Linked DNA regions of Homo sapiens: regions 2, 3 and 4 are each linked to region 1. Evidence: fine-mapped expression QTL. A gene starts in region 1. Each other region holds a variant in brackets. All regions are shown on one strand. Distances are between the middles of the regions.

The links.
Region 2: its variant is fine-mapped to the expression of HEY1 in whole blood (TOPMed, PIP above 0.99).
Region 3: its variant is fine-mapped to the expression of HEY1 in whole blood (INTERVAL, PIP above 0.99).
Region 4: its variant is fine-mapped to the expression of HEY1 in whole blood (TOPMed, PIP above 0.99).

The regions. Positions count from the first base shown.
Region 1 is chr8:79,763,885-79,771,988 of GRCh38, forward strand. It overlaps HEY1 (hes related family bHLH transcription factor with YRPW motif 1), which reads right to left and starts at 3,883. Exons shown (of 5, transcript NM_012258.4): 1 at 3,691-3,883; 2 at 3,335-3,410; 3 at 3,125-3,208; 4 at 2,767-2,848; 5 at 126-1,887. The coding sequence starts at 3,779. The coding sequence ends at 1,304. LINC01607 (long intergenic non-protein coding RNA 1607) reads left to right here and starts at 4,258. Exons shown (of 4, transcript NR_125410.1): 1 at 4,258-4,334. It overlaps LOC101927040 (a long non-coding RNA gene), which reads right to left. Exons shown (of 6, transcript NR_110954.1): 5 at 7,683-7,738; 6 at 5,488-7,121. RefSeq lists enhancers at 1,580-1,819, 3,406-3,455 and silencers at 3,906-4,385, 4,426-4,785, 4,886-5,055.
Region 2 is chr8:79,800,946-79,809,049 of GRCh38, forward strand. It overlaps LINC01607 (long intergenic non-protein coding RNA 1607), which reads left to right. Exons shown (of 4, transcript NR_125410.1): 4 at 1,542-1,897. LOC101927040 (a long non-coding RNA gene) reads right to left here. Exons shown (of 6, transcript NR_110954.1): 4 at 1,166-1,252. Among named protein-coding and RNA genes, the nearest start is that of LINC01607, 37 kb to the left of the region's middle. The variant A/G (reference allele first, on the strand shown) is at 4,753.
Region 3 is chr8:79,843,022-79,851,125 of GRCh38, forward strand. The region is part of intron 2 of LOC101927040 (a long non-coding RNA gene); the gene reads right to left. Among named protein-coding and RNA genes, the nearest start is that of LINC01607, 79 kb to the left of the region's middle. The variant T/C (reference allele first, on the strand shown) is at 3,475.
Region 4 is chr8:79,824,635-79,832,738 of GRCh38, forward strand. All of the region lies in intron 2 of LOC101927040 (a long non-coding RNA gene), which reads right to left. Among named protein-coding and RNA genes, the nearest start is that of LINC01607, 61 kb to the left of the region's middle. The variant A/T (reference allele first, on the strand shown) is at 4,378.

The sequences.
Region 1 (8,104 bases):
AAGTCCAAGAATAATGAAACTGGTAAACATACAAACCAATCAGGCAAAATGAAAACCAAGGAAAGTTTATCTTTTCTTAGCCAAGAGGGGGAAAGGCCAAGGTATGTAAGACATACACCACAGAATACTTTGTTCTTTCTTTTTTATTTAGTCACAACACATCAGTACAACAGAGGTCAAACCCAGTTCAGTGGAGGTCGTTTAACTACACCTGCTAAAAGAATAAACCTGAAAAATGATATTTTATAGCCCAAATCAAATTAAATAAATCAAAGAGAAGGAGGCAGGAAAGCCCTTTTAAATACCTTGGCAACCACAGTTCCATGCACCAAAAGGAAAACTCACATAAAAATTTCCAGTTAAAAGAAAATATGGCAGTCCCAGGAAAATTAGGTTATGCATTTAACAGTTTCCACTGTACTACTCAATTGACCACTCGCACACCATGATCACTTATCCATGTTAACATTTGTGAATTTGAGATCCGTGTGATTAAAAATTCTTTGTGTTGCTGGGGCTGGTAAATGCAGGCGTATTCTATTCAATTACCTTCAGTTTCCTTTCCACCAACACTCCAAATGAGACCTAACCTATCAGCGGCTCTCTCCTAACTAAATCAGAACTGCCAGTCCTGGCAGATACCAGCAGCTGGTCAGATGGATTCAGGGCCACCAACAGTTTGTACATTCACCTTTCTGCTATAGGAGGCAGACAATTTACTAGTCTTCTTTCTTGGATAAAGCTGATCATCTGATTTGTCAACGCTTTGCTCAGAAATATAAAATTCAATATAGTTCCCCTCCCCCCAAAAGAATATTATTTATACAACACCTTAATCTGTCAAAATATTAACAAACAGAATCATGTTAACATTAAGCATAGTGGTTTGGAAAATTAATTCTAAAAACAGACCATAACTATACAAGGAGAAAAACAGACCAAAAATACTAAATGTTAAGATTCCCCAAATTTTGAGGCAAAAACGGAATCATTCTGGTTTACAAAGTAAATTAGGCACAGTACAAACCTATCACAAAGTGTTGGCTTATACTCACTATTTCAATTTAATGTCTTGAACAAAATTTAACAACTAGTTTTTAAAAACTGCTAATACATGACATGATGAAAAAAACATTAAAAAAGATAAAAGTAAACCAACAAACCTTTAGTCTTTAAAAAAAAAATTATCTGAAAGTGTACCTTTTTCCTTTTTACTTTTACTGACGACTTTAAGGTGATGTTGGCAACAGTCCAGCCCAGCTGGGATTTTAAACTTTCCCCTCCCTCATTCTACATCAGTTCTTTAAAAAGCTCCGATCTCCGTCCCCCAAGGTCTATAGGGCTTGCCAAGGTTTGCAGCCTGCGTGGGTGCTGAAGGGCTCAGTGCATTGGGAGACAGTAAGTGGAAGGAGCCGAAAGAGAAGGGGAAGGCCGACAGGGAGGCCACTGAGGAGAGCAGAGGCGGCGACAGTTTGGAGGCGGAGGTGACCACAGGGAGCACCGGTCCGAGGCTGCCGCTAGGGGGCGCTCGCAAAGCAGGCGCCTCCGGATGTGCCGAGCCCAGCCTGCCCTGGTGGTGCGGTTCCGTGGGTGAGGCCGTGGTGCCCGCGTTCCCGTGGCCGTTCTGGGGCAGCAACAGCGGGTGCGCGATGTGCGGGTGATGTCCGAAGACGGTCCCCCAGGGAATGTGTCCGAGGCCCGCGTGGGCGCCGCTCGCGGCTTCCCGCTGGGAAGCGTAGTTGTTGAGATGCGAAACCAGTCGAACTCGAAGCGGGTCAGAGGCATCTAGTCCTTCAATGATGCTCAGATAACGCGCAACTTCTGCCAGGCATTCCCGAAATCCCAAACTCCGATAGTCCATAGCAAGGGCGTGCGCGTCAAAGTAACCTAAGCAAAAGAACAAAAGAAAAATCTCAGGGCTTTGCCCGTTTCCCTCATTTCTTAAGTCCCAGAGACAGCCCTTCCTGGCAGATACCTGCATCCCTTAAAACACAACAGTCAGGGGTTCTTCCGAAAGTCTTTGGAATCAACAAAAATCTTTGCATTAATCAACATAAGCAGAATGTGTTTGCTAATGCAAGTTCAAAGCCCAATTAGAAGCTGCAGAGCAGAAATTGGAATTATACCCTACCAGCAGATGAAACTATGTTCATTCCTTTAATGTTTTCCCTCAACAACAACAAAAAATACATCAAGGGCAGAGAAACCACAGAGCAGTGAAATTCATTAGACACACAGATGTAAGTTATCATCGCGGAGCTTTTAGGCACTTGGACCTCAGTAAAGCATTTTCCTGCTGGAGAGACATACACACAGACCTTGGTCTCCCGTTAGGTTTCCTTTACTTAACCAGAATACATTTCTTTCCTCAAGAGGCATGTGGCAGCACCTTTTTTTTAAAATCCCGTATACCAAAAATAAGACCACATATTGTTTTTAAATGCTTTTTCTCAAAATAGCAATGGACAAATGTGAAAGCTACCTGATCTGAATCAGGGCTGTCACAACTTTTGAAGACCTCACAAATAATAGGTATTTTTCCAAAAGATGCACTAGCTCAATCCGCAGAGAGCTGGGGTGGTGAATTCACTGGAGAAGATTCTATGTGCATTCGAAAATGTACTGACAGGGAACTGCACACACCACACACCGTTCTCTCCCCACCCCCAAAGAAAAATCAGGCAGCTACTGCACCAATCCTGGCCTTCAGCCGCTGCTCACTCTTTGCCAACCATTCAGAGCCCCCACTAGGTCTAGGAGATGTACCTTTCCCTCCTGCCGTATGCAGCATTTTCAGGTGATCCACGGTCATCTGCAGGATCTCGGCTTTTTCTAGCTTAGCAGATCCCTAAAGATGAGAATGGCAAAAGATTGATTTGGCACAAGTTCCTTTGGGGAACAATTTAAAATATGCAAACATATATACAAAGATACATGCTTTGTAAATCGTAAAGCATGGACTAAAGCAAAATCAGTTGTCTTCACAAAATACGCTGGTATCTGTGTACGAATTCATCTAGGCACAAGCAACACAGCTATTTTCCAAGGCGGATGAGATTAATGAGGGGAAGATTCAGAAGGTGCAGATAGCTATGCTGAGAGCTTTACCTACTTGCTCCATTACCTGCTTCTCAAAAGCACTGGGTACCAGCCTTCTCAGCTCAGACAAACTGTTATTGATCCGGTCTCGTCGGCGCTTCTCAATTATCTGCAGAAGGCAAGCAAAACAAAGGAAGGCATTACCATTACGACTGTAAATTTCAAAGACAAAAAAAAAGGTGGTTATTTCCGTTAATCAATAACAAAAATAAAAGGAGAGTGTAAAGAGACTCACTCCTCTCCGTCTTTTTCTGGCCAAAATCTGGGAAGATGTAGTTGGGGACATGGAACCTAGAGCCGAACTCAAGTTTCTGAAAAGAGAAAAAGAACAAACAAAAACTGAAATCGCCGTTAAACGAGGAGAGGTGATCTGAGAGGTCGCCCCCACACCCTCCCCGCACTCAGACTTTTTTTGCCACTTGGGCTGGAAGGCACCTAGGGGTTCCCTGGCCGCAGGCTGCCGCCAGCCTGCGACGCGCGGAGGTCAGCGCAGGGCACCGGCGCGCCAAGGGTCCTAGCCCGCTGTCACCGCGGCAGGCCTGCGCTCGCCTCCCGCTCTGGCTCGGCTCCGCTCCGCCGCCGCCAGCTCACCCATTCTCGTCCGCACTCTCCTTCTCCACCTCGATGGTCTCGTCCAGCTCGCTGTCCGAGGAGCTGTACTCGGGGTGAGCTCGCTTCATGCTGGCTCCCTGGGGGTTCCTGGGGAGGGTCGGCGCGGCGGGCAGGGAGGAGTTAACTACAGCGGCGCCTCTCCGCTCTCGGCTGCTTGCGTTCCGCACACACTGATCCCGCTCACGCTTTGCCTCTGGTTAAAACTCAACCATCCTTTCCCACGCTGAGCCCCTTCCCAGGGCCCTGGGGAGGGCGGGGGAGTGGGGAAGGCGGGCGAGGGGGCGGAGAGGCGGGGCGGCAACTCCAGGGCAACAGCCGCCCCCCGGCCAATCCGGTTTCTCGCGCCGCTGATTGGCAGCCGCTCCGGGGAGGGGCGGGAGCGAGGCCGAGGGCTCTAGCGGACCGCGCCCCCGCCCTCCGCGCCCGCCCCTGCCCGGCGGCGGTGCGTCGGCTCCGCGGGGGCTCTGTCCAGCCTGCACTCAGGGGAAGGAGGAGGCGCGGGCGGCGGGGAGGCGCGGGAGGCCGGGCCGGGACACAAGCCCGCCGGCGGCCGCGGCTCCTCCCCGCCCCGCGCGCCCCGATTGGCCTGGCCGCGCGCCAGGGCCGAGCCTGCAGCGCCTCCGGTGAGCCGCACGCGCCGCGGGCCGTGGGAAAGTGCCGGCGCCGCGGCCGCCAGCCAATCCGGGCGGCCGGCGACGGCGACGGCGGCGGCCGCGCTGGCGGCGGCGGCGGCGGCGCTGGGCGTCCGCATGAATGGAGAAGAATGGGCAGGCGGGGAGCCGGGCCGCGCGAGGGCGCGCCGGCGGGGGCTGGGCGGCCGCCGGCCGGGCCCCCAGTGTGAACCTGTAATCGGAGCCTGGGCGCCGGCCGGCCTCGGAAGCCGCCGCCTAGCGCCACCGTAAATCTCGCCCGCGTGGCCGCCAGTGCCCGGCGGCTGGAGGCGCGCGCTGTTAGTGGGGCCGTGCCGGGTGCACCTGGCCGGGCTGCGCGCCGGCGGCTCCGCGGAACCCGCAGGGAGCCGGGAGAGGGGGCGCCGGGCGCGTCCACAGTGGCCACCAGCCCAGGGGCCGGTCACATGGAGGAGCAAGCTGTGGGCTCAGGGGACGCTCTTTTTGATTTCTGGGACCGAGGCCGCACATGCAGCCAGACTCGTTTCCGCAGGGGCTTCCCAGCCGCGGAATGGAATGAATACCCCTGTGCATCTCATTTCCGGGGAAGGGGAGCACTTGTTTTTTCGGCCGCCTTGGGGAAAAAAAAACCCAACGGTCCCTGGGAATAATCATTATGCTGGGATTTTTTTGTTGTTCCCCCGCTGCCCCCCCCCCCGCCCCCTCCCCCCGGCGGCCAGATCCTCTCAGCGGGCGACAGGGTGGCGGTGCTGGCGTTTGCGTCTGAGGCCGGCCTTGCTGAGGGAATGCACGTCTCTGGCCCCAGACACACACCTCTGGCTTCGGTGGCTTGGCGTGGCGTGTACTGGGTGCCACGTGAAGTCCCCCCCGAGTCCACTAAGAAGACAGATTTTTTAAAAAATACAGTTGTAAATCTCGAAACTGATTTCTGATTCCAGAAACAGAATGGTTGTTTTAAATTTGAAAATCCGGTCTTCTGTCCCTTACAAAGGTACACAGCAATTCGCATTCATCTCAGATCCACTCTGAAGCTTGTAGTCCTGTCTGTGAGGGAAAGCTTAATATCCATCGGTGAGAATAACAAAAGGCGTTTTCTCTTTGCAAAAAGCTTCCTGGTTTCTAGACTTCCTTATTGATCTCAATGCTATTTTTTTTTTGAGATGGTGTCTCACTCTGTCGCCCAGGCTGGAGTGCAGTGGCGCGATCTCGGCTCACTGCAACCTCCGCCTCCCGGGTTGAAGCAATTCTCCTGCCTCGGCCTCCCCAGAAGCTGGGATTACAGACGCGCGCCACCATGCTCAGCTAATTGTTTTTGGTATTTTTAGTAGAAACGAGGTTTCACCATGTTGGCCAGGCTTGTCTCAAACTCCTGACCAAAGGTGATCCGCCTGCCTTGGCCTCCCAAAGTACTGGGATTACAGGCCTAAGCCACCGCGCTCGGCCTCAATGCCATCTTAACACATCCTGGATGCCAAGCACTCTGAGTGGCCGGCCTGGGCCTAATCCATAGTTCCTCTCTGGGCACCCCCATCCCTCCACCACCGCCCCCAACGGGAAATACAACCTCCTGGCTCCCACTGAAGCTTATTCCACTTCACATCACCTCCAGCCCTGAGCCTTTCCATGCAGCCCCTCTGCTTCCCTGTCTAGGCTGGGCCCTTCCATCAGCCAGCCTGGGTTTGTTGCTGCTGGCACCCCAGACCTCTGGCTTCCTGAAACTCCACCGCATGCTGCCTGTTAGTTGTCAGTCCGAGGTCAATCCCACCAGCCGACTTTCTCTCTGGAAGTGCAAATTTTAAGGCTCCTTCCTGGCCCTCCCAGTCTTCAGTCCAGGGCATCCATCACTACTTCCTGCCTCTTCCCTCCCAGAAACTGATGGTCCAGGCATAGGAAACCATCCCACCTGCTCCCCTCTGCCTTCCAGAAGTCCCTCTGACCTTCCATTTCTTTCCCCAAAGTGACAGGCCACCCTTCCCCAGAACCAACGTGTCTACTTCCCCTCTGGCTCTATAGATTTTCCCAGCCTCTGGCACCTACAATGAGTCAGCCTTTCCTGCTTTGGCTCATTTCTGCTGCTGTGGAGAGGCGTGGACAAGCTGCAGATGTTGAGTGAGACGAGACCGGGTGGGGTTAGGGATGCTTAACTCTACATTGGCATCCAAATGAAATATTGCTCACATGTTCATGATTACTTTTATGTCAAAAAGGAGGTTCTCTACGGCCAGGCGCAGTGGCTCACACCTGTAATCCTAACACTTTGAGAGGCTGAGGCAGGAGGATTGCTTGAGTCCAGGAGCTCCAGATCAGCCTGGGCAACATAGCAAGATCCCCATTTCTTAAAAAAGAAAATTAAAAATTAGCCAGGCATGGCATGCACCTGTAGTCCTAGCTTCGTAGAAAGCTGAGGTGGGAGGTTTGCGTGAGGCCAGGAGTGCCAGACCAGACTGGGCAACACGGCAAGATCCCCATCTCTAGAAAAAATTTAAAAATGAACCGGGCATGGTGGCCTGTGTCCTAGCTACTCTGGGGGCCGAGGCTTGAGCCCAGGAGGTCAACGCTACAATGAGCTATGATCATTGCACAGCACTCCAGCCTGGGTAACAGAATGAGACTCTGTCTCTAAAAAAATTACAAATGAGGTTGTCTTGCTTCTTAAGTTTGACTGATTTTTCAATGCTTCCAATAAATACGTATTCTTCTATGTGCCATGTGCTGTGCTAGGGCCTGAAAACACAAAGGTGACCCAAAAGTCATCCATCTTGCACTCCTAGAACTCACATCCTAGGGAGAAGACAGAGAATACACAGTAAAGTAGTTATGGATGCTCCAGTGCTTGGAAGCACTTGTTGGTAAGGAAAAACGAGGGGGTGAGGATTCTTTATGAGGTCTGGGAAGGCCTGTTCTGAGTTTGGAAGGGACTTAAGATCAAGAAGAGGTGAACTAGGTGGTTCAGTAATAACCGGGAAGGAAGGGGCGGAGACCTCTTCCTTGAGTGGTGGGATCAGAGGAGAGAGTTACACTGAGGGCACCAGGCCCAATTTTCTCCCATCTGCTGTGTAGAAGGGATTTACCCCTGGAGGCTTTGAGTGAAGAACGACTTTAAACATCTTTGCTACCCTGAATGAAAGGTACGTCCTGCAAATTGACCCCTTCTGCAACTTAAATGGGACTGCCCAGGCCTGGCCCCTCAGGAAAAGGACCTTTTACCATTTGGGGGTGGGGAAGTGGGCAAGTGTTGCCTTTTATAATTCGTCTCTCCTGAAGAATCACCCTTTTTTATTTCGCTCAAAGGCCTATTTTCTTGCCTGGTTTGTAGAGTCTGGGTTCAGTTACTTAGCTTACCGTTCCGCAGGCTGCTTTTATCTGCGTTCCCTTGCAGAAGAGATACTCCAGATGTCCTGGAAGAGAGAGACACTCCAGATTTAGGAATTCACTCGAAAGGCCAGGCCCAGGTGAGGGCCTCCCCAGAGGAAAAGTGGTAGAATCTCCAGGGAGGAACAGCTCATCCTCAAACTCCAGCTGCAGCATTTCTCTATGAACGAGGCTTAGGGTGGCCAGCTTGTTGGAAGGGATGCAACCAGTAGCTGGGTGTGAGACTGGCCTTGAGGAAGCCCCAGTCGTCAATTATTCATTCATTAGAGCTTTGGCCACTGTGGAGGTCCCTACTTGGATACCCTTCATGAGGCCCTGTCTCTGTCAGTTTGCTGGTGGGTGCAGGTGATCTCAATTGAACAGGCATGGGACATAGTGCTCAGGAGGACCAG
Region 2 (8,104 bases), 37 kb after region 1:
CCATGAGGCTCTAGGTGTGCAGAGAGGGGACAAAGAGGGTTGGCCTTGGAAGGTCTGGTGTAGCTCACAGAAAGGCTGGTTATGACTTGCAGTCATTTAAGTGCAGATGGAGAATAGTTGATATCTTCCTCCTATGATTAATTCTCCCCAAACTTTTCTTTTGACTCTTGATGAAATATTCTCAATGAATTTTTCTTTTTATATCCAATTCTTAGTCCTTCCAGCAATTTTATCATCAAAATCTGTTAATTTTCTATCTCTCCTTGCTGTGGGCTGAATGTTGTGTCTTCCCAAAATTCATTTGTTAAAATCCTAAACCCCAAGTATAATGGTATGAGGAGGTGGGGTCTTTAAGAGGTGATCAGGTCATGAAGGTAGAGCCCTCACAAACTGATTTAGTGCCATTATAAAAAAGGCCCCCAAGAGACCCTCGCCTCTTCTCCCATGTGAGGATACAGAAAAGACAGTGTCGATGAACCAGGAAGGAGGGTCCTCACCAGGCACTGAATCTGCCAGCACTTTTATCTTGAACTTCCCAGCCTCAGAACAGGGAAAAATTAATTTCTATTGTTTATGAGTTATCCGGGTTATGGTATTTTGCTATAGCAGCCCAATAGACTAAGACTCTCCCTGTATAATGTAAGTTCTATGAAAGTAACGACTTTGTCTATTTTGTTCCTTGCTCTATCTTCAGCATCTAGTACAGTGCCTGGCAATAAATATTTGTTCAACAAATGTATGAGCCCATTTTCTATGGGCTTCATTAGGCTGAGATGGGGATGGGAACTAATGTTTAAAATGGGTTCCTATTACAAACAATGAAACAAACATCTCAAGCTCTCCTTCCTACTCACTTTTGTAGGAACTCCATCCCCTCCAGGTCTCTCCTGCTTGTTTCTGAGCATTCCTGGAGATGTTTTCGGTGTGCTCAGGAACAAGTGCTAAAGATGTGGCTACCGCACTGGAAACCTCAACAAGCTAAGGAGGTTCTGTGTTCTCCGAAGCCCTCTGTGCATCACAGCCATGGCTGTAAGCCATGAAGAAAGGGAAAGAGCACCTCCTTCTCGCCTTGTATAACCTCTTGTCACACAGGCACCAAAGCAGTATGACACTGTGCTTTGTAGTTGGAGGTTTTGTAATGAAAATACTTCCCATATTTACTTACATGTCTTATTTCCTCTGGATCCAGACATGAGTACAGGAAGAGCTCATCTGAGGACAAGGAGCAGTATTCAGACTCTCTCCTTCCTCCCTGCTGGACACCAAGACATTCAGATTAGCTGAACTTAGTAGGCCACCTCTTCCTTAGGCTGAGGCACTCCCGTGAGGCTATTCAGTGCCCTCTGCAAAGGAGTCTACTCTCTTAGCCCACTAACCATTACCAGGCTGTCTAGATTCCAACAGTGACCATGTTCAACCTTGAGCTTGAAAGCCACTACAAAATCCTTTCTTATAAATAGAGCTTTGGGTTGGCATAGAAATTTGGCATGTACCTGACCAAGCCTGTGTCTATGTCATTGGTATTTTATGTCCTATTCTAGGGCTTGTATGTGTCCAGGAAGTCTAGTGAATTCGACCATGAATCCAGACATGGCCAGTGGCTAAATCCTGTGGGAAGACACTGTGCTTCTCTCTGACCCATGAACACTCTGCTAGTCAAGCTCTCTGTCACAAAGACAACTTGAAGAGACAGAGTGGACCTCACAGAAGATACCATCGTCACTCTTACCAATGCAACTGTGGTGAACAGGACCACTATTATTCCTTAGATCAAAAGGACAGCACATTCAACAGCATCCTCATGGCATGCCAGCAATTTGCATAGGATGTTCACAATTAAACTTTGATTATCTAGTGCTTTGTGGATGTATTATGTATTACAGAAATCTATTTGCAACATGGAGGCACATTTTCTCTTTTGTTTGTTCACTTGTTTATCTGAAAATCAACAAATGGTTATAGAATGCCTACTATGTGCCAGGGACTTCTGGTCACAGCCTCAAACAAAAGAGATTCTTCTGTATTCTATTCTTCTGTAGCTTACCATAAATAAGAGCATTCCATAGGTAAGAAAACAGTTAAATAGTAAGATAATTTCACATAATCATAACTTTGGGCCTGATGTGGTGGCTCATGCTTGTAATCCCAGCACTTGGGAGACCAAAATGGGAGGACCACTTGAGCCCGGGAGTTCAAGACAAGCCCTAGCAACATAGTGAGACCCCCACAACAACAAAAATGAAAAAATTAGCTAAGAATGGTGGTGCACACCTGTAGTCCCAGCTACTCTGGAGGCTGAGGCGGGCGGATTGATTGAGCCTGGGAGGTGAAGGTTATGAGCCCAGGAGGTGAAGGTGAAGGTTATTGCTTGAGCCCAGGAGGTGAAGCTAAGATGGTGCCAATGCACTCCAGCCTGGGCAACAGAGCAAGATCCTGTCTCAAAAAAAAAAATTAAAAGCTAAATTTTATGAAAAAATTATAAAAAACAAATTTGATGAAAAAAATTACGCAGAACAATCTAACACAAAAGGTGGCTGGGATTTGCTGGCCTGTGTCATTCACATCCCCCTTGTCCCTTGCAGTTTCTAGAGTACATGCCAGAAAGGTGAAATGCTTGTTTCCCCAACCTCCCTTACTGCTAAGAGAGTAGCAGCCTGACACAAATCCATGGCTCCAAACAAAATACCCTGAGGAGCACTTTCCTGCCCAATAAAATGCAGAGCCAGAGCCACATAAGAAAAGACTTTGATCCTTTAAACTCTCCCTTCTCCTTGTTTGAAACAAAGATATAATACCCAGAGGCACAGCAGCTATCTTGCAATCATGGAGTGATCATCATATGGAAGAATGTCATGATGTTAATGACTACCGCAGAGTAGGAAGCAAGAAGGAGGCTGCATCCCTGCTGTCACTATTGAGCCCTGCAGAGCCTTCACCTAACTACCCTGGACATCTTCATCAGTTTGAGACAAATAAGGCTCCATCCATTTAGGCCTTTGTTAAGTTTGTTCTTATTTGCAGCCAAACACTTTACTAACTACTAGAGAGATGTACAGCTGTGGGTCAGAAGCCACTTTAGGCCGGTCGTGGTGCCTCACGACTGTAATCCCAGCACTTTGGGGGCTGAGGTGGGCAGATCACGAGGTCACGAGTTCGAGGCCAGCCTGGCCAGCATAGTGAAACCCCGTCTCTACTAAAAATACAAAAATTAGCTGGGCATGGTGGCACGTGCCTGTAATCCCAGCTACTCAGGAGGCTGAAGTAGGAGAATAGCTTGAACCCGGGAGGCAGAGGTTGCCGTGAGCCGAGATCACGCCATTGCACTCCAGCCTGGGAGACAGAGCGAGCCTCTAGCTCAAAAGAAAAAAAAAAAGCTACTTTAACCAATGTGATTATGGAAGTCTTCTCTGAGGAGATGACATTTTAGTTGAGACCTAAATGATAAAAAGCAGCCAGCCATGTAAAGATCTGGGGAAAAGAATTTCAGGCACAAAGAATAGCAAGTGCGAAGGCCCTTAGACAGAAATAGGTCAGCCATGTTCAAGGAACAGAGAAGATGTGCCTGAAGCACCATGAATGAGGGGGATTTCAACCATGGTGAAGGCCCTAGAGGGAGGGGGATGGACCTTGGGGAACCCTCTACACCTACCTAAAACTCTGAATTTTATTTTAATACCAAGGAGGAGATTTGAGATAGATAGATTTGAGATATGTTTTGGCAGTAAACCCTTCAACAGGACTCATTGGTGGAGCAAATGTAGAATAAGGGAGATACAGGTGACTCCTGGATCTTTGTTCTGAAAAACTGTGTGGAAGATGGAGCCACTGCATGAGTGGGGAAGAATGTAGGAGGTCCAGGTTGGGAAAAGGAAGGGAATGCTGAATCAATTGTATTTTATGTGATGTCTGAGATGCCCATTACAATTCCAAGTGGCAGTGTCATATGGGAAGCTGGATACATGAATCTGAAGCTCCAGGGAGAAATGAGGGCTGGAGACAGACATTTGGAACCATCCACATACAGATGCCATTTAAGTCATGGGTCTGGATGTGATTTCCTGGCTGGAGAATATAGATAAAGAAGTTGAGGCCAGGTGCAGTGGCTCATTCCTGTAATCCCAGCACTTTGGGAGGCTGAGTGGGGAGGACTGCTTGAAGCCAGCAGCTGGAGACCAGCCTGGGCAATATAGTGAGATGCTGTCTCTACAAAAAATAAATAATAATTAGCTGGGTGTGGTGGTGCATACCTGTAGTCCCAGCTACTCCTGAGGCTGAGGCAGGAGGAGAGCTTGAGCCCAAGAGTTCAAGACTGCAATGAGCCATGATCATACCACTATCTTCCAGCCCAGGAGACAGAGCAAGAACCTGTCTCAAAAAAAAAATATATATATATATATATATGTTGAGGCCTGGGATACTTTGATACTTCAACATTTAGACTTAGAACAGAGGTAACAGAACTAGCAAAGGGGACAAAGAAGGAGCATCCAGGGAAGTAAAACAAAATCAGGGAGTTTTGAGAAGAAGCTTTAAGAAAGAGGGAGTGATTGGCTCTGTTGAATGATGCTATGAGGTTAAAAAAAAAGGAAACAGGAAAGAGCTGTTGGATTGAACTTGTTGGGTGTATTTGGTTATCTTGCTAAGAGCAGTTTCAGAAGAGAGGAGAAGCAGAAGTCTCATTTTTCTGGGATCAAGACCAAACGGGAGATGAGGAAAGGAAGTACAGACATCTCTTCAGTACAGAGTAATTTC[A/G]CTATGAAGGGAAGCAAGAAAAATGGGGCAGCAGCTGCAGGGTGCTTGGGTTAATAGAGGATTTGGGGAGAGTTTTTAGTTAGAGGACAGATCCCACAGCACTTGTCTACACAGTAACATAAGTTGTGCAGAGTAAAGCAGAGGGTTTGATATTGATTGAGCTCCTACTGCATATTAGACACTTTACAAATTCCCATTAATTCCTCTCAACAAGCCTGTGAGGTGGGAATTTTTATCCTCTTTATAGAAATGAAGGAGGCAATATAATATATTGGTTAGTACTTCAGGTTTGAGTACAACTAAGTCAGAGCTCACAGCTTGTTAATTGTGTGACCTTGACCAGTTACTTAACTCTCTTTGCCTCACTTTCTTCATCTGAAAACTGGGAATAAAAACAGTACTTACCTCACACGATTGCTATGAGGATTAAATAAAATAATCCATCTAAAACAGGTAGCACAAGACCTCACATATAGTAATTGCTCAATAAATATTAGTTCTTTTTAGAGATGAGGAAAGAGAACCTCAGAGGTTATGTCCATTTATTTAACAAATATGTTGAGCTTCTACTTTTTACTAAGTACTGTGTGAGGCCAGAGAGTACAGCAATGAAAAAATAAATATCATTGTCTTCATAGAACTTAGAATCCATAATAATCATGGTCATGGTAATAACAATAAGAGTAAAACCAACAATCACTAACATGTACTATGTGCCAGGCCACAAAGGTATCATCGTTGTGAGCAACAAAAGCAGAATCTGCCTTGCTCCATTTTGTCTTTTTATTATGTCATCCTTCCCAGGGGTATCATTTTGCAAGCAGAAGGAAACCCAAGTCTAATGAAATAATCCTCTTGTATGAGGATGTGTGACTGAAAGGAAAACATTAGAGGTGAAGAATAACCTCTCTTGCTTTCTCCACTATTTCCCCAAGATCGTATGGGAAACAGATTTTAGGGATTACTTTTCTCTACTTCCTGACTTGTTTCCCCTTCCCTGGTTTCTTCCCAGGTTGTTTAATTAATTAAGGACACAAATGTGGCTGGCACCATGTTACATACTGTGTGCTATCAAAAATAAGTGTTGTAGGCTGAACTGTGACACCACCCCCAGCAAATTCATCTGCCAATGTCCTAACCTCCTAGTACCTCAGAATGTGACTGTATTTGGGAAAAAAGAGTTTTTTTGTTTTTGTTTTGTTTGTTTGTTTTTTGATATGGAGTCTCACTCTGTCACCCAAGCTGGAGTACAGTGGCGCAATCTTGGCTCACTGCAACCTTCGCCTCCTGGGTTCAAGGAATTCTCCTGCCTCACCCTCCTGAGTAGCTGGGATTACAGGCGTGCGCCACCATGCCCAGCTAATTTTTGTATTTTTAGTAGAGATGAAGTTTCACTATGCTGGCCAGGCTGTTCTTGAACTCCTGACCTCGTGATCTGCCCATCTCGTCCTCTCAAAGTGCTGGGATTACACGTGTGAGCCACCGAGCCTGGCCAAAAAGAGTCTTTAAAAAGATAGTTAAGTAAGACCGGGCACGGTGGCTCACCCCTGTATTCCCAGCACTTTGGGAGGCCGAGGTGGGCGAACTCCTGAGGTCAGGAGTTCGAGACCAGGCTGGCCAACATGGGGAAACCCTGTCTCTACTAAAAATACAAAAATTAGCTGGGCATGGTGGCTGGCACCTATAATCCCAGCTACTTGGGAGGCTGAGGCAGGAGAATCACTTGAACTCGGGAGGTGGAGGTTGCAGCAAGTCAAGATCACACCACTGTACTCCACCCTGGGCAACAGAGCCAGACTCTGTCTCAAAAAAAAAAAAAAAAAGATAGTTTAGTGAAAATGAGGTCATACAGGTGTGCCCTAATCCCGTCTGACTGTGTGCTTATAAGAAGAGGTGATTAGGACACAGGCAAACACAAAGGGAAGATGATGTGAAGACGCAGGGAGAAGACGGCCATCTGTAGCCAAGGAGAGAGGCCACGGGAGAAAACAGCCCTGCCAACACCTTAATCTCAGATTTGTAGCCTCCAGAACTGTGAAAAAATTAATTTTTGCCACCCAGCCTGTGGTCCTTTGTGATGGCTGCTCTAGCACACTACTATACAAGTAAAACAGACCCTTGGCCTGCGAGATGTCACAGGGATGTGGAGGACATGGGACACGCTTATGACTAACTGCCGAGCAAGACAGGGCAAAGACAGCACCACGTGAGAAGCACTAAGGTTAAATTCCCTAAGTACCAGGGTTAAAGAGACCATTCACGTCGGCGGAGGTGGACAGTCAGGAGAGATCTGAGGAAGAAGGCAATTGTAAACTGGGATGAGAATGACTCACTGGGACCTACTGGGTATCAGATGGGAGATAAGGGCGTTCCAGAGAGATGGAATGAATCCTTTTTTATTTTTGTCTATTATTAGTTCACTCTCTTTGCACCTCCTCTTATGTATTAACCTTACCAGAATCTAATCAAATTATCATTCTGTTATTATTTCATTATTATGTTGATTAAGAAGCAAAAGTATCATTATCCCCATTTTTCAGATGAGGAGGCTGGGGCACAGAGAGGGAGGTAACTTGTCCAAGGCTGTACATCTAGCAAGGTGGACAGCCGGATGCACGCCCGGGTGGTTCTCCCTCATTGATCCTGTAACTGAGACCAAGTGTGGTCAAGCAGCGGGTGGACATAGATTGAGGCTGTGTGGAGCAAACGGTGCACAACAAGCAAGTGCAGCTCCTTTTTCAAGACACATAGGCAGAATGAAAAGGACAGAACTAGCACAGCAGCCTGAGAAGAAAGGGAAGGTGAAGGAAGTTGCTTTTATCTTTGAAGAGGGGGAAGATTAGAAATTGTAAGTGAAGGTCGGGCGCGGTGACTCACACCTGTAATGCCAGCACTTCGGGAGGCCAAGGCAGGTGGATCATGAGGTCACGAGTTCAAGACCAGCCTGGCCAAAATGGTGAAATCCCATCCCTACTAAAAATACAAAAATTAGCCGGGCGTGGTGGCAGGTGCCCGTAATCCCAGCTACTCAGGAGGCTGAGGCAGGGAATTGCTTGAACCTGGGAGGGAGAGGTTGCAGTGAGCCAAGACTGTGCCACTGCACTCCAGCCTGGGCAACAGAGCGAGACTCCATTTCAAAAAAAAGAAAAAAGAAAGAAAGAAAAAAGAAATTATAAGTAGGTCAAAGGGAGGAAGGAGGAAAGTAGTGAAGACAGGAAAGAAGATAGTTGGCAAAGAAAGGTCATGGAGGAGAGTAGAGGCCTAGGATTTAGTGCCTGCTTAGGGCGGGGAGAGTTTGGGGCAGTGAGGTCAGCATTGGAAAGAATGCAGGACGCCTTCGGATGTGAAAGTG
Region 3 (8,104 bases), 79 kb after region 1:
AATGGGTGAGACCTCCCAACCAGGGTCTCCAGCCACCTCCTGCAGGTGTGTTCAGGCTGGCAACAGGTCCATACCCCCTGGGATGGAGCTCCCAGAGGAAGGAGAAGGCTGCCATCTTTGCCGTTTTGCAGCCTTCACCGGTGATACCTCCAGGTACTGGAAAATCTGAGGTGACTGGCGACTGGAGTGAACCCCCAGCAAACTGCACCAGCCCTATAGAAAAGTGGCTAGACTGTTAAAAGAAAAAAAGCCCCATCTGAAGGTCAACAACCTCAAAGATTTAAGGTAGATAAGCCCACAAAGGTGAGAAAGAATCAGTGCAAGAATGCTAAAAACTCAAAAAGCCAGAATGCCCTCTCTCCTCCAGATGACTGCATCACCTCTCCAGCAAGGGTTCAGAACAGGGCTGAGGCTGAGATGGCTGAAATGACAAAAATAGAATTCAGAATATGAATAAATATGAACTTTATTGAGCTAAAGGAGCATGCTGTAACCCAATGCAAGGAAGCTAAAAAACGTGATAAAACAGTGCAGGAGCTGATACACAAAATAGCCAGTATAGAGAAGAATGTAACTCACCTGATAGGGCTGAAAAACACCTTACAAGAATTTCATAATGCAATTGCAAGTATTAATAGAAAAACAGACCAAGTAGAGGAAAGAATCTCAGAGCTTGAAGACTGTCTTTCTGAAATAAGACAGGCAACAAGAATAGAGAAAAAAGAATGAAAAGGAATGAACAAAACCTCCAAGAAATATGGGACTATGTAAAAAGACCAAATCTACAACTGATTGGTGTACCTGAAAGAGATGAGGAGAACGGAACCAATTTCGAAAACGTATTTCAGGATATTATCCATGAGGATTCCCCAACCTAGCTAGACAGGCCGACATTGAAATTCAGGAAATCCAGAGAACCCCAGTAAGATACTCCATTAGGAGATTATCCCTGAGACACATAATTATCAGATTCCTCAAGGTCAAAATGAAAGAAAAACTGTTAAGGGCAGCCAGAGAGAAAGGCCAGGTCACCTACAAAGGGAAGCCCATCAGACTAACAGTGGACCTCTCAGCAGAAACCCTGCAAGCTAGAAGAGATTGGGGCCCAATATTCAACATTCCTAAAGAAAAGAAATTCCAACACAGAATTTCATAGCCACCAAAACCAAGCTTCATGAGCAAAGGAGAAATAAGGTCCTTTTTAGACAAGCAAGTGCTGAGGGTATTCTTTATCATCAGACCTGCCTTACAAGAGCTCCTGCAGGAAGCACTAAATATGGAAAGGAAAAACTGTTACCAGCCACTACAAAACCACACTGAAGTACATAGACCAGTGACACTATAAAGCAACCACATAACCAAGTCTGCAAAATAACCGGCTAGCATCATGACGACAGGATCAAATCCACACATAACAATACTACTAACCTTAAATGTGAATGGGCTAAATGCCTTCAATTAAAAGACACAGAATGGCAAGCCGGATAAAGAACCAAGACCCATTGGCATGCTGTCTTCAAGAAACCCATCTCACATGCAATGACACACATAGTTTCAAAATAAAAGAATGGAAGAAAATTTACCAAGCAAATGGAAAACAGAAAAAAGCAGGAGTTGCAATCCTAGTTGACAAAAGCAGACTTTAACAGAAAAAAAGCAGGGGTTGTACTCCTAGTCTGACAAAACAGACATTAAACCAACAAAGATCAAAAAAGACAAAAAAGGGCATTATATATAATGGTAAAGGGTTCAATTCAACAAAAAAGAGCAAACCATCCTAGATATATATGTACCCAACACAGGAGCACACAGATTAATAAAGCAAGTTCTTATAAACATTCAAAGAGACTTAGACTCCCACACAATAATAGTGGGAGACTTTAACATCCCACTGACAATATTAGACAGATCACTGAGACAGAAAATTAACAAAGAAATTCAAGACCTGAACTCAGCTTTGGATCAAACGGACCTGATAGATATCCATACAATTCTCCACCCTAAAACAACAGAATTTACATTCTTCTCATCACTACATGACCCTTCTTTAAAATCAATCACATAATCGGAAGTAAAACACTCCTCAGCAAATGCAAAAGAACTGAAATCATAACAGTCTCTTAGACCACAGCACAATCAAATTAGAACTCAAGACTAAGGAATTCACTGAAAACCATACAGTTACATGGAAATTGAATAACCCACTCCTGATTGACTGATATGGTTTGGCTGTGTCACCACCCAAATCTCATCTTTAATTGTAGTTCCCATAATCCCTACATGACATGGGAGGGACCCGGTGGGAGATAATTGAATCATGGGGGCAGTTACTCCCCTGCTGTTGTTCTTGTGATAGTAAGTGAGTTCACCATGAGATCTGATAGCTTTATAAGGTGCTTTCCCCCCTTTTGCTTGGCACTTCTCCTTGCTGCCACCATATGAAGGATATGTTTGCTTCCCCTTCCACCATGATTGTAAGTTTCCTGAGGACTCCCCAGCCATATTGAACTGAGTCAATTAAACCTCTTTTCTTTATAAATTACTCAGTCTTGGGTGGGTATTTCCAAATAGCAATGTGAGAACAGACTAATAAGATGACATTTTCTTTTTTGAGACAGAGTCTTGCCCTGTTGGTGAGACTAGAGTGCAGCGGTGTGATCTCAGCTCACTGTAACCTCTGCCTCCTGGGTTAAAGTGATTCTTGTGCCTCAGCTTCCCAAGTAGCTGGGACTACAGGCACGTGCCACCACACCCAGCTAATTTTTGTATTTTTAGTAAAGACAGGGTTTCACCATGTTTGCCAGGCTGGTCTTGAACTCCTGACCTCAAGTGATCCACCTGCCTCAGCCTCACAAAGTGCTGGGATTATAGACACAAACCACTGCACCCAGCCTACACGATTACTTTTGAGTAAATAATGAAATTAAGGCAGAAATCAAGAAGTTCTTTGAAACTAATGAGAGCAAAGATACAACAGACTAGAATCTCTGGGACACAGCTAATGCAGTGTTAAGAGGGAAATTTATAACACGAAATGCCCACATCAAAAAGTTAGAAAGATCTCAAGTTAACAACCTAACATCACAACTAAAAGAACTAGAGAACCAACAACAAACAAATCCCAAAGCTAGCAGAAGACAAGAAATAAGTAAAATCAGAGCTGAACTGAAGGAGATAGACACACATAAACACACACACACACACACACACACACACACACACACACACACACACAAACACATCATTAAAAAGATCAACAAATCCAGGAGTGATTTTTGAAAAAAAATAATAAAATAGACCACTAGCTAGAATAATAAAAAAAGAAAAGAGAGAAGATTCAAATAAACAATCAGAAATAAGGGGAATATTACCACTGACCCCACAGAAATACAAACAACCATCAGAGAATATTATGAACACCTCTATGCATGTAAACCAGAAAATCTAGAAGAAATGGATAAATTCCTACGCACA[T/C]ACACCCTCCCAAGACTGAACCAGGAAGAAATGTAATCGCTGAGCAGACCAGTAACAACTTCTGAAATTGAAGCAGTAATAAATAGCTCACCAACAAATAAAAGTCCAGGACCGGATGGATTCACAGCTGAATTGTACCAGATATACAAAGAAAAGCTGGTACCATTCCTACTGAAATGATTCCAAAAAATTGAGGAGGAGGGATACCTCCCTAACTCATTCCATAAGGCCAGCATCATCCTGATACCAAAACCTGGCAGAGATACAACAACAACAAAAACTTCAGGCCAACATCCTTGATGAACATTGATGCAAAAGTCCTCAACAAAACACTGGCAAACCAAATCCACCAGCACATCAAAAAGCTTATCTACCACGATCAAGTAGGCTTCACCCCTGGGATGCAAAGTTTGTTTGAAATACACAAATTAATACATGTGATTCATCACAGAAACAGAACTACAAAAGCCACATGATTATCTCAATAGATGAAGAAAAGGTTTTCAATAAAATTCAACATCCCTTCATGTTAAAAACTCTCAATAAACTAGGTATTGAAGGAACATACCTCATAATAATAAAAGCAATATATGACAAACCCACAGCCAATATCATACTGAATGGGCAAAAGCTGGAAGCATCCCCCTTGAAAACTGGCACAAGACAAGGATGCCCTCTGTCACCACTCCTATTCAGCATAGTATTGAAAGTTCTGGATAGAGCAATCGGGCTAAAGAAAGAAATAAAGGCATTCAAATAGGAAGAGAGGAAGTCAAACTATCCCTCTTTGCAGATGACATGATCCTATTATCTAGAAAACCCCCTCATTTCAGCCCAAAAGCTTTCTAAGCAGATAAGCAACTTTAGTAAAGTGTCAGGATACAAAATCAATGTGCAAAAATCACTAATGTTCCTATATACCAACAGTCAAGCCAAGAGCCAAATCACAAACCAATTCTCATTCACAATTGCCACAAAAATAATAAAATACCTGTATTGTAACAGTACAAGGGTGGTGAAAGATCTCTGCAAGGAGAACTACAAACCACTGCTCAAATGTATCAGAGATAACACAAATAAATGGAAAAACATTCCATGCTCATGGATAGAAAGAATCAATATTGCTAAAGTGGCCATACTGCCCAAAGCAATTTATAGATTCAATGCTATTCCCATTATACCACGGACATTCTTCATGGAATTAGAGAAAACTATTTTAAAATTTATATGGAACCAAAAAAGAGCCCAAATAGCCAAGGCAATCTTAAGCGAAAAGAACAAAGCTAGAGGCATCATGCTACCTGACTTCAAACTATACTATAGGGCTACAGTAACCAAAACAGCATGGTACTCGTATAAGAGCAGACACATAGACCAATGAAACAGAATAGAGAACCCAGAAATAAGATCACACACCTACAACTATCTGATCTTCAACAAACCTGACAAAAACCATCCTTATTGAAAGGATTCCCTATTCAATAAATGGTGCTGGGATAACTGGCTAGCCATATGTAGAAAATTGAAACTGGACGCCTTCCTTATACCATATACAAAAATTAATTCAAGATGGATTAAAGACTTAAATGTAAAACCCAAAACTATAAAAACCCTGGAAGACAACCTAGGTAATACCATTCAGGACATAGGCATGGGCTAAGATTTCATGATGAAGATGCCAAAAGCAATGGCAACAAAAGCAAAAATTGACAAATGGGATCTAATTAAACTAAAGAGCTTTTGCACAGCCAAATAAACTATCAACAGAGTGAATAGACAACCTACAGAATGGGAGAAAATTTTTGCAATCTATTCATCTGAGAGACTCTACAAGGAACTTAAATCCAGTTATATACTCTACAAGGAACTTATATTCAGACTCTACAGGAAACTTAATCTACATCTGACAGATTATTAGACCTATTTAGACAGAATAGATCTATTCAATCTATTCATCTGACAGACTCTACAAGGAACTTAAATCCAGTTATATACTCTACAAGGAACTTATATTCAGACTCTACAAGGAACTTACATTTAGAAGAAACAAACAACCCCATTAAAAAATGAACAAAGGACATGAACAGACACTTCTGAAAAGAAGACATTCATGCGGCCAACAAACATATGAGAAAGAGCTCAACATCATTGATTATTACAGAAATGCAAATCAAAACCACAATGAGATCTCACATCAGTCAGAACGGCTATTATTAAAAAGTCAAAAACTAACAGATGCTGGCAAGGTTGTGGAGAAAAAGGAATGTGTATACACTGTTTGTGGGAGTGTAAATTAGTTCAACCATTCTAGAAGACAGTTTGGTGATTCCTCAAAGACCTAAAGACAGAAATACCATTCAACCCAGCAATCCCATTACTGGGTATAACCGAAAGGAATATAAATCATTCTATTGTAAAGACACATGTATGCGTGTGTTCATTGCAGCACAATTCACAATAGCAAAGACATCGAATCAACCTAAATGTCCATCAATAATAGACTGGATAAAGAAAATGTACATATATGCCATGGAATACTATGCAGCCATTAAAAAGAAGGAGATCCTGTCCTTTGCAGGGACATGGATGGAGCTGGAGGCCATTATCCTTAGCAAACTAATGCAGGAACAGAAAACCAAATATGGCATGTTCTCACTTACAATTGGGAGCTAAATGATGAGAATCACATGGACACATGAAGAAGAAAACATACACTGGGGCCTATCAGAGGGTGGAAGGTGGGAGGAGGGAGAGGATCAGGAAAAACAACTAAAGGATACTAGGCTTCATACCTGGGTGATGAAATAATCTGTACAACAATCCCCCATGACACACGTTTACCTATGTAACAAACATGCACATTCTGCACATGTACCCATGAACTTAAAAGTTTTTTTAAACAAGATAATAGGTAAAAACCAAACACAAAGTAGTTTTTCTTTCCAATTCTCATATCATAAAGCAGAAAGCCCTTTCTCCTTTATGAAACAGAAAAGTACTCATAGTCAGTAAAGAATGTTCACAGCAAATTTGAAATGCCCACAAGGCACAAGAGTGCCTTTTATTTCCAGGAGGTTTTGTATGAGTAAAGGCTGGAAAAAGCCATAAATCCAGCTCTTTGTTGACCAAGTACCCTGCAACGTTGTATCTCTGAATCCAGAGACAGAGAACTCATGTGTCCTAAAAGGCACTGATTCTCAGAAAAGATGGAGTCAGGAAGGATTGTTTCTTCTGCATCTGAGATGAAAATAGAGCTAGAACAGGCAAGGTTAACTGATGGTTGAATTTCAGGGAGATATCAAATTGTATCTTTTTCTTGATACCTTATTCTAAATTGAGCTACTTTCTTATAAATGTCTGTAATTTGCAATTAGTAATTATCCAATTGTAATTGCTGATCTCTATGAGCTATGAACAAGTGCCCTGGAAGGCCTGCCCTCCTTATCTTCATCACTTCTCCATTTAGTTCTCCCCACTGCACTCTTGCTTCCTCTACCACCCATTCCACTGACGTTGCCCTCACTGCAGCCACAGCAATTAGGCCAATGGCTCTAAAAGGGTGGTCTGTGCACCCAAAACGGGGTGGGAATGAGAGGCGAGAGCCAGATCCTTTCAGAGTCTGCACACAGAAAAAGTGTCTTAGAGGAACTCAAGACTATGCATGCCAAAGAAAAAATTTTGAATGACTTTAAACATTTTAGATTAATATCTTCTAAGAGTTTTAAAAAAATCACATCTGAGAAATAGAAGCAAAATGATATAAAATAACAACAAAAAGAAACATCCAAAAAGCAAAAATGTGCCTTTTGAAATTAAATAAATATGAAGTTATTTAGCTTGATTTAGCCATTCCACAATGCATACATATATCAAAACCATCATGTTGTATACCATAAATATATATAATTTTTATTTCCCAAGTTAAAAATAAAAAAGTTTGAATTTAAAAGTTTAAAACATGTGAAATTAAAAACTGTGTAGAAAGTTTAGACGTTAAAGCTATAAAAATCTCCCAGAATAATACAAAAATTAAAAAAGATGGAAAAGGCAGGGAGTGGGGAGAGAAGACAATTAAGGATCAATCCAGGAGGTACAATATGTGAAAATTTAAGTTCTAGAATAAAAGAACTTCAGAAGAAAGGAAAGAAAATAATCAAAGAAAGAGTTCAACAAAATTTATCTGAGTTTCTGGTTGAGAAAGGCCTCTAAGTGCCAGCACAATGAATGAAAATAAATCCACAAGAAAACATATCACAGTTAAATTTTAGACTGAGGACAAAGATTTTACAAATGGCAATGTGGAGAAACAGTTCTTGTAATAATGATTACAGATCAGAATGACTTCAAACTTCTCAATAGGAACAAGGCAAGCAACCCAAAACAATAAATGGAGTGATGACCTCTAAATTCCAAAAGAAAATTATTTCTCACCTAGAACTGCATACCTTGTCAAAATAACAAGAAAATATTAAATAGAATAAAGCTTTCCTTAAAAAAAAAACACATGTATTATGAACTGAATGTCTGTGTCTACCCAAAATTCATATGTTGAAGTCCTAACACCCCTAGTGTGGCTATATTTGGAGACAAGGCCTCTAAGGAACAGTTAACTTTAAATGAAGTTAGATTT
Region 4 (8,104 bases), 61 kb after region 1:
CACACCCAACTTCCCAGTTCATCTGCTTTGGGAAATCAACTCATCAACACTGGATTTTCTTTTCTTTTCTTTTTTTGAGATGGAGTTTCCGCTCTTGTTGCCCAGGCTAGAATGCAATGGCGTAATCTTGGCTCACTGCAACCTCTGTCTCCTGGGTTGAAGCAATTCTCATGCCTCAGCCTCCCAAGTAGCTGGGATTACAGGTGTGTGCCACCACACCCAGCAAATTTTGTATTTTTAGTAGAGACAGGGTTTCACCATGTTAGCCAGGCTGGTCTTGAACTCCTGACCTTGTGATCCACCTGCCTTGGCCTCCCAAAGTGCTGGGATTACAGGCATGAGCCACCGTGCCTGGTCTGATTTTTGTATTTTTTTGTGGAGACAGGATTTTGCCATGTTGCCCAGGCTGGTCTTGAACTCCTGAGCTCAAGCAATCTGCCTGCTTTGGCCTCCTAAAGTGCTGGGATTACAGACATGAGCCACCGCGCCGGCCTAACACTGGATTTGTTTAAGGCAAAACATGCCTGTAATTTGCATCCAAACATCAACTCCAGAAAGGGAAACTATGGGATTCTGTTATCTTTGTTATTGTTTAAGATGTATTATGACAACCACCTTTCCCCCAAGAACCTTCCCTACCTGGCAGAAAGGGGTTTGTACCCACAGGCCAGTGTACATTCTTCCCAATGTGATGGATGCAAATCTTGCTCTATATCTACCTACCTTTCTTACCCAAGAGGTTTATCAAGCCTGAACCCTGTAAACTCTTTAAGGTTCTCATTTATGCTCTTTCTTTTCATTAATACGTCCTCCCAGAGCACCACTTTGGGACTACAAATTCTGGGACAGAGGTATTAACAGAATAGATCCATCCAAGGGAGAGCCATACGCTAGCCGCAGCATAGCCATGTCAAGCAGCGACCCTGTGGGCATACCCTGCCTGCTCGTGTGTGTCCTCTCCCAGTTACTGTTTACGTTGAGTTACATGAGTCAAGCAGCCAGGCTCCATGTGGCAAAGTATACAGTAGACAGCGCATTGTATTTTGCAGAGCCTGTGATTGAGGGAAACCAATGCTCCCTCTTAAAATTACCTTTGCAAAATATTTAATATAAAACAGTACTTCTTAAGTCTGGAGGAGTCTTGGAAACTTGAAAATCAGCAGATCTGTCCAACAGAATACACAGGGCTCTCTTCCTGGGGCTGGAGGAAATATACACAATTTTTACATATAAATTTTTCATCCCATTTCAGAGGACTCAGACTCCCTGCAGGTTTTTTTTTTTTTTTTTTTTTTTGAGACCAAGTTTCACTCTTGTTGCCCAGGCTGGAGTGCAGTGGTGCGATCTTGGCTCACTGCAACCTCCACCTCCTGGGTTCAAGCGATTCTCCTGCCTCAGCCTTCCAGAGTAGCTGGGATTACAGGCATGTGCCACCATGCCCGGGTACTTTTGTATTTTTAGTAGAGATAGGGTTTCTCCATGTTGGTCAGGCTGGTCTCGAACTCCTGACCTCAGATGATCCGCCTGCCTCGTCCTCCTGAAGTGCTGGGATTACAGGGATGAGCCACCGCGCCCGGCCCTCCCTGCAGTTTTTCCACACACTCTTTTGGGTATCCACCTAATCTAGGGGAATCTAAAACAGCACCTAAATTCTCATCTCATCCAGATTCTAGTGGTCTCTTTTTTTCAGTCATGAGAAATCCAATGAAGTGGTGAGCTCCTAAGAATTCAAACATTGAGTCAGATCCCACAGTGTGAACTCTGTCTCTGCTCTGGGTGTCTCTGTCTGTTACGGGGGGGTGATCATTCATCCTACCAGGAATATCCTGGCAGGTTTCCTCAGGCCCAGGCATTGTACAAAACTCCAGAAGCTGCTCAGTCTGAGAAGCGGAGCGCTATGCAGAAAGCCCCCGGCATCGTCACAACATGGGACCTTTAGTGGGCAGTTGTTTGAGGTCATTTTCTCATCAGTAGCAGCAGGCTCAAAATGGATGTGCAATGCAAACCAGGAGACTAGGGAGCACCGAGCAGCCTCAGGGGTTGTTTTCTGCCTGGTTCAAGAGAAACTGCCGTAGAAATTTTTGCCGCCAGCCTGTTGTTGAGTGACAGGAAGAGAAAAAAGGATCATTTGAAGGCTCCCTGATTCAAATGGCGTATACAGAATGCCAGGCCCTGGCTGCCCTGGAGAAAGCCACTCTGGTGCCAGCTTAGGGAACAAATGTGTTCCCACTGTCTCCTGGAAAGGCTTTCCCCACCCCTGCTGAGGGGGTGGATTTCAAAGCAGCTGACTTCTTGCCCTTTTTAATAGGACTGCAAGTGTTCCCATTTTAATTCTAAAACTTTCTCCCAATTTTCCACTCCTCCAAGGCCTCCCAAGAAAAGCTGGTATTCTGGGTCACTGAAATGGCGTCAGGTTATTAAGCAGAGAAAGGGGATTAGAGGAACAGTTCCTAGCAGCAGCAGCGAACACAGTTACGGTATTGAGAGCTTGCGTTGCATGTTAATAAAATGCTATAAAACATCAAACCCTAAAGGTAGCAGTGAAAGCCACGTAAGTCCTTTCCGGAGTTTGCCTTCTGCAGCTGTGGATCTAAAAGTTCCCTGCCTTTCCTGTACTTTCATAATCACGCTTTTCCTCCTTTAGAGAGACACGCAGCCTCACTCCCAAACCATGGTGTGTTTTAAATGCTGACCACCCCATCTTTCCCTGGCACCATGGAGCGTTTCAGTCTAAAACCCTAGGGTCTGCGAATTCTGGCCAGTGCGCTGGGGAGAGGTAGTAGAGTAATTAAGTTAGCTGTTAGCTGCTGTGAGCGGACTTCGGTATTTCATCGCAGCTGCCTGCCTCTGTCTCCCCAGCCGCCCTCCCACATCTTCCTATGAGACCGGCTGTGTGTGTGAAGGAGGTGCTGTTTCCCACAGCTCTGATCTAATTCAGCTGAAATTCAATCTCCGTGTGACCAACCTCAGCCAGCGCTCTCCCACCCACCGCCGGCCTCCCCTCTGCAGGCTGTGTGTGCTGCCCATTTACACCATCAATCCCACAGCCTCCCCTCCACCAGCCCCTGGGTATAGACTTACGGTGTCAGCGGGCCAGCCTTGGGGGCTCGCCTGCTGCCCGGACGCTCACCCCTCATCCCCAGTACTCCGAGGTGAGACACTCTATACCTGCCACTCGGTGGCCTGAATGGGGCCTGTGAGTCATCGCAGGAGAAAGGGCAGTGGGGCCAGCTGAGGCTGAGAACCCAAAACAGATGTCAGAGACATCAGGCCACGTTTTCCATGGATCTTCAGTGCCCAGAAAGATTTATGACCTCTTTTAACCCCCTTTTAACGTGGGTTGAACTGGGCTTGTCTTATAGGGGGGAAACAAGTCTGGCAGTCATTCAGAAAGTCACCAGAGCGACAGGGCCTGCCCTGGGTCTGTGGACCCTTGCTTCCTTTCTTTGTCATCCCTCTCTTAAGCTCCATCCCTTAGCCTCTGTGTTTGGTGGGGACATTCCATCACAGACTCATCAGAGCTCTCCATCCCTTGACAGCCCAAAGCTGCTTGTGGCTTTGACCCTAAATGGTATTCAATTTGGGTTTGCATCTTCATACTGAACAAGGAAATAATAAGTATCTTTTAGAAGAGCAGAGATTGCAGAAGGCCAGCACTGGCCAGTGATGCAGGGCCCTGGCTTTTTTTTTTTTTTTTTTTTTTCTGGTCTAATTGTTGCCTAATCATGTTATCCTGGATCAGGCGCACTTTCTTTTGACTAAGAAAGCTTTGAACTTTGCTTTGCACTTCCTGCAAGAGGAGGATTTCTACCTCGGGGCAGAGAGGCACAGGAAGGCAGAGGTTTGCGGGTACCTTTTACAAGCCCTATGAAGCAAAAGGGAAGGGGTTTACAAAGGCATCATAATTAGAAATGATGTGTCAGGGCAGGCAGGCACCACCAGAATGTGACCCTGCCGGTCTCCTCCCAGGCTGCTGCAGGAACACGGGAAATTCAGCGTGGCTTCAGCACGGGCACTCAAGCCATTTTCCAATGCAAAGGATCCCAGTCTTCCAACCTTCCATTAGTTTTACTGCACAGATTGATAAGTGACAGGCAGGGTCACACCTTCATGCTTATTTTTTTTTAAGAGAATTATAATTTGCATGAAGAGATTCCTTTTTGCTAACAATCCACCCGCTCGCTTATCTTGATCTACAGATAAAAACAGGACAGTGGAGCTGGAAAGTGTTTCCCGCACCTCCCTCAGACTCCCAGACACTCAATTTGCATTCAGTCTCAGAGAGAGTTTAGAGCCTGCTGTGTCTCCTTTTTTTGGACAGTGGGTAGTTATGACCGGAATTAAAAGGAGAAAAGTCTCCAGCACTTAAAAAAATCA[A/T]CCAACTTTTTTTATGAACTTCTGCTAACAGTTAGGCTGTGTCACGGAGGGAGGTGTCCTGGGAGGGAACCTCACCCCTCCCTAGAGAAGAGGAAGCTTCCCGCAGCCAACCTCAGAAATAATCGTCTCCCTGAGTCCTGAGAAAACTGCCCCAAATGTTAACACATCAATCTTAAGGAAACGAGCCTGGCTTTTACCGACTTAATTTCATATAATTATTTCAGAGTTTAAGTCTTTACAAGAAAGAGGGAGTGGAGGGAAAGGATCAGAAAATTGAAGGGGATGAACAGAAGAGGAATGAGATTCCTTTGTTTTGAAGATTCCCATTTCTCTCCCAGTGTGCAGGGCATCTTTATCTGTGCTTTCGTCTCTCAGGAGCAAATGCACAGCACACTCAACAGCATGTGGAGAAGCTTGGAAGGCGCTGATTTCGGCTCAAGTCCGTTTTTAAAGGACACTTTAATAAAGCATCCTCTTGTGTCTTGGATCTTAGAACACCAAATGTACAGTGAAATGAGGTCAGAAGACCTGTGTGCCAGTCCTGACTCCTGACCACTAAGTTATGATGTAGTTGGCACAAGTCATTAAGCTTCGGGGACTTTATTACATCTCTAAAATGGAGGTAATGAGACCTCCCCTGCCCCCCTCTGGGGGGTTATATATAGGAAAATAGGAAAACACTTTGAAAAGTTAAAAATGCTGCTATACAGTCAAAAGTTATTATTCTTACAATAATAAAGTTCATTATGAGTATTCTGTAAGTACATTTTTAAATTTAATTTTTTTACATAGAAACAGGTTCTCACTATGTTGCCCAAGCTGGTCTCAACCTCCTGAGCTCAAGCGATCCTCCTGCCTTGGCCTCCCAAATAGCTGGGATTACAGGCATGATCCATGATGCCCAGCCTGTAAGCAGTTTATTATCAGTATTCACATAAGAGCCAGCAGCATAGGATTTGTTAAGTAAGGAAAAAGCTCGGACACCATCTAGTCCAATCAGTTTTAAATGCATCCATTTAAAATGTAAATGACAAAGCCTCATCCTCCAGAAATATTGATTCCATAGGTATAGATTAGCCCAGAAATCTGGATTTTAGATCACCACCTTGGGATATTCAGAGATAGAATCCAACAACCTGACTTTGAGCAACGTTGTTTTGCAAAACGAGGACATTTCTCATTCTCCTACTCCCTGGCCATATCCTTCCTCCCACTGGGGCTGGGTGTGAGAATAGAGCACATTACTTTCACATCTCTTCATTAATATTTCAGAATCTACAATGTGAAGGACTGGGAAGAAACAAAGCAGAATCGGGGATTATGTTGATGGGTTTGGTTTCCCTTTAATGATGAGAAAAAATGCATGTCTGCTCTGAGCAGATGATAAATTGATCCAGAAAATGTTGCACAAGTGTTCTTTGCTAAGCTTCAGGGTCAAAGTCAACAATATAAAAGAAAATATACCTCCGTTTAGTTGAAAAGGACTTACGTTCAAGGCATTGCACAACAGGTCTGGTGTGGGTTACACTCTGTCAAATGGCCCTGTTCATTTATTCAGCTTTCCACAGATCTTTGCCAAAGAGGACAATGAGAGAAAGAGACAGATTTAGCTGTTGTGGTTGCAGTTTGTTTTTGCACCTGGTGGGTTTTTTTTTTAAATGACAATAGTTTGAGAATATCACGACAACATTTTTAAAGATAATGAAATCATTTGTATGTGAAGTTGGGATAATGAAATGACAAGCCTCTCATAAAAGGAATCTCCTTTTAGTAACCATTGCCTATACTTGCATTAAGTGAAAAAAAAAAAAAAAATGAACCGAGGAAGAACTTTCTAGAAAGATAGATAGCTCCTAGAAATCTGGGAGCTTTTCATCATTATTAAACTCATTTGTCTTGCAACTTTCTATTCCTAAAATGAGCAAAAAATTTAACAAAAGCAGTCTCTGGAAAACCAAAACAGAGAACTCATAACATATTCCATTTACTCATAGGAAACTCTCAGGTACCTCCTCAAACCTCTCTACACACAGTTCTAATGCACATCTGCATGCACACACGTGTAAGTGTGTGTCTATATTGGTCTTCTATGCTCACAGTAAACACTGAACATCAGAAAATTAGGGTAGAAGAATTTCTGGAAATAGGTGCATTGATAACCAGAGTGATTGGTCAATGGACTGATGAAAAGCAGGGAGACGAGAGTATATTTAAAAGTTTTCAAAATAACTTCAGAATCTGAAAATTTGGGACCCTTTATGTGCCCTATTGCATTGCAGCAGAGTAACAAAATCTTGTTCACTGTCATGATCCCAAGGCATCAAGAAAAAAATTAAATTTCATCCATTTTCTCTGTTTAAGAAGGTACTAAACAATGTATTTTGGAAAGATTTTCATCAAAAATGTTTAAAATTAAAAAGTCCATGCTGAAAGAGACAAATCCTTATGTTTCCAGAACTCTCATTTACTCAAAAATCTTTTTTCCCAAAGTTTCTGAATAAGCAAAGTTTGTCTAAGGAGCAAAGATTGGGAGAGAGGAGGAGTGGGAGGAGGAACAGCTGTTCTGAATTAAGAAGCATGTTAATGACAGCACAGGAGTCAGAAAGATGCTCGGGTTCGCCTGCTGGTCTAAGAGGCAATGTATTAAACTGTCTAATAAAAACAATTGTTCTAGGCCTGTGATAATGGACATGAGGAGAAAGATTTGGAAGACAGCATTGACGAATGAAGTATCTGTGGCATAAAACCACTCTCTCCTGCGCCCTCAGTCCAAGGCTGTTATCAGAAGTAGGTGACACTGCACAGGCACGGGGTGACGAGGGGCGTGCTGGAAATGGCCCAGTCTAACTCACTCACATTTTGGCTTCACAGGGAGCATTTTCTGAGAGGGTCGATCACCTGAACTGCAAATGGGCCAGGGCAGGAACAAGAGGGGAGAAAAGGGGATGCTTTCAACAGGAAGATTAATGATAAACACGAAATAGCATGATGACTGTGAAGGTTTCAGGCACCGGAGATGCTAAGAAAAAAGAAAACAGAAAGTCTTTTTATCTTTACAGTGGTTCCTATAAAGGGGTCAGCAGGTCGTGGTAGAAACTATCAGTTAATTATCTCTAGGTCAGCAGCATGCCTCTAGTCAGAGAGCCCAGCCCCCTTGCAAGGAGACCCTGAGCTCACTGATGCCGACCAGGAAAGGCCAGGGGTGGGGGGAGGAAACTTCTGAGCAGGAGACAGAAGCTGCACCAAGCCCCTCATCCTGCTTGCCTCTCACCCCTGAATCTACATCCCATAGACACTGAAAACGTTCCCCAAACCTGCCACTGACTAGGGAGCTCTGTCTGAATACAAATAGGACCGAGACTAAAGTGTCCCTATTTTAGAAATGGAGAGATACTCTAGGAACACAATCAGAATCAAAAACTGCTGTCTCCAGAGCCTAAACCTGACCTTGACTTCAGCCTTCACCTTCTCCCTGGCCACTTGACAAGACGTAGTCACATTTAGGACACGGAAAATATGTAAACCCTTCAAAAAGTTTTTAAATCCTGTGTCATGTCATCTAATTTGTGCTGTAGATAAGAAATATAAATACACATGCATTATTATGATTTTTTAAAAAGGCAGAAATCCTAGGTATCAACAACTTCCTAAACATAAATGACTCCTAAATCCAGCTCTTTCCTCAGCCCTGGACTTGGATTTCCAATTGCCCGCTGGAAATATCCAC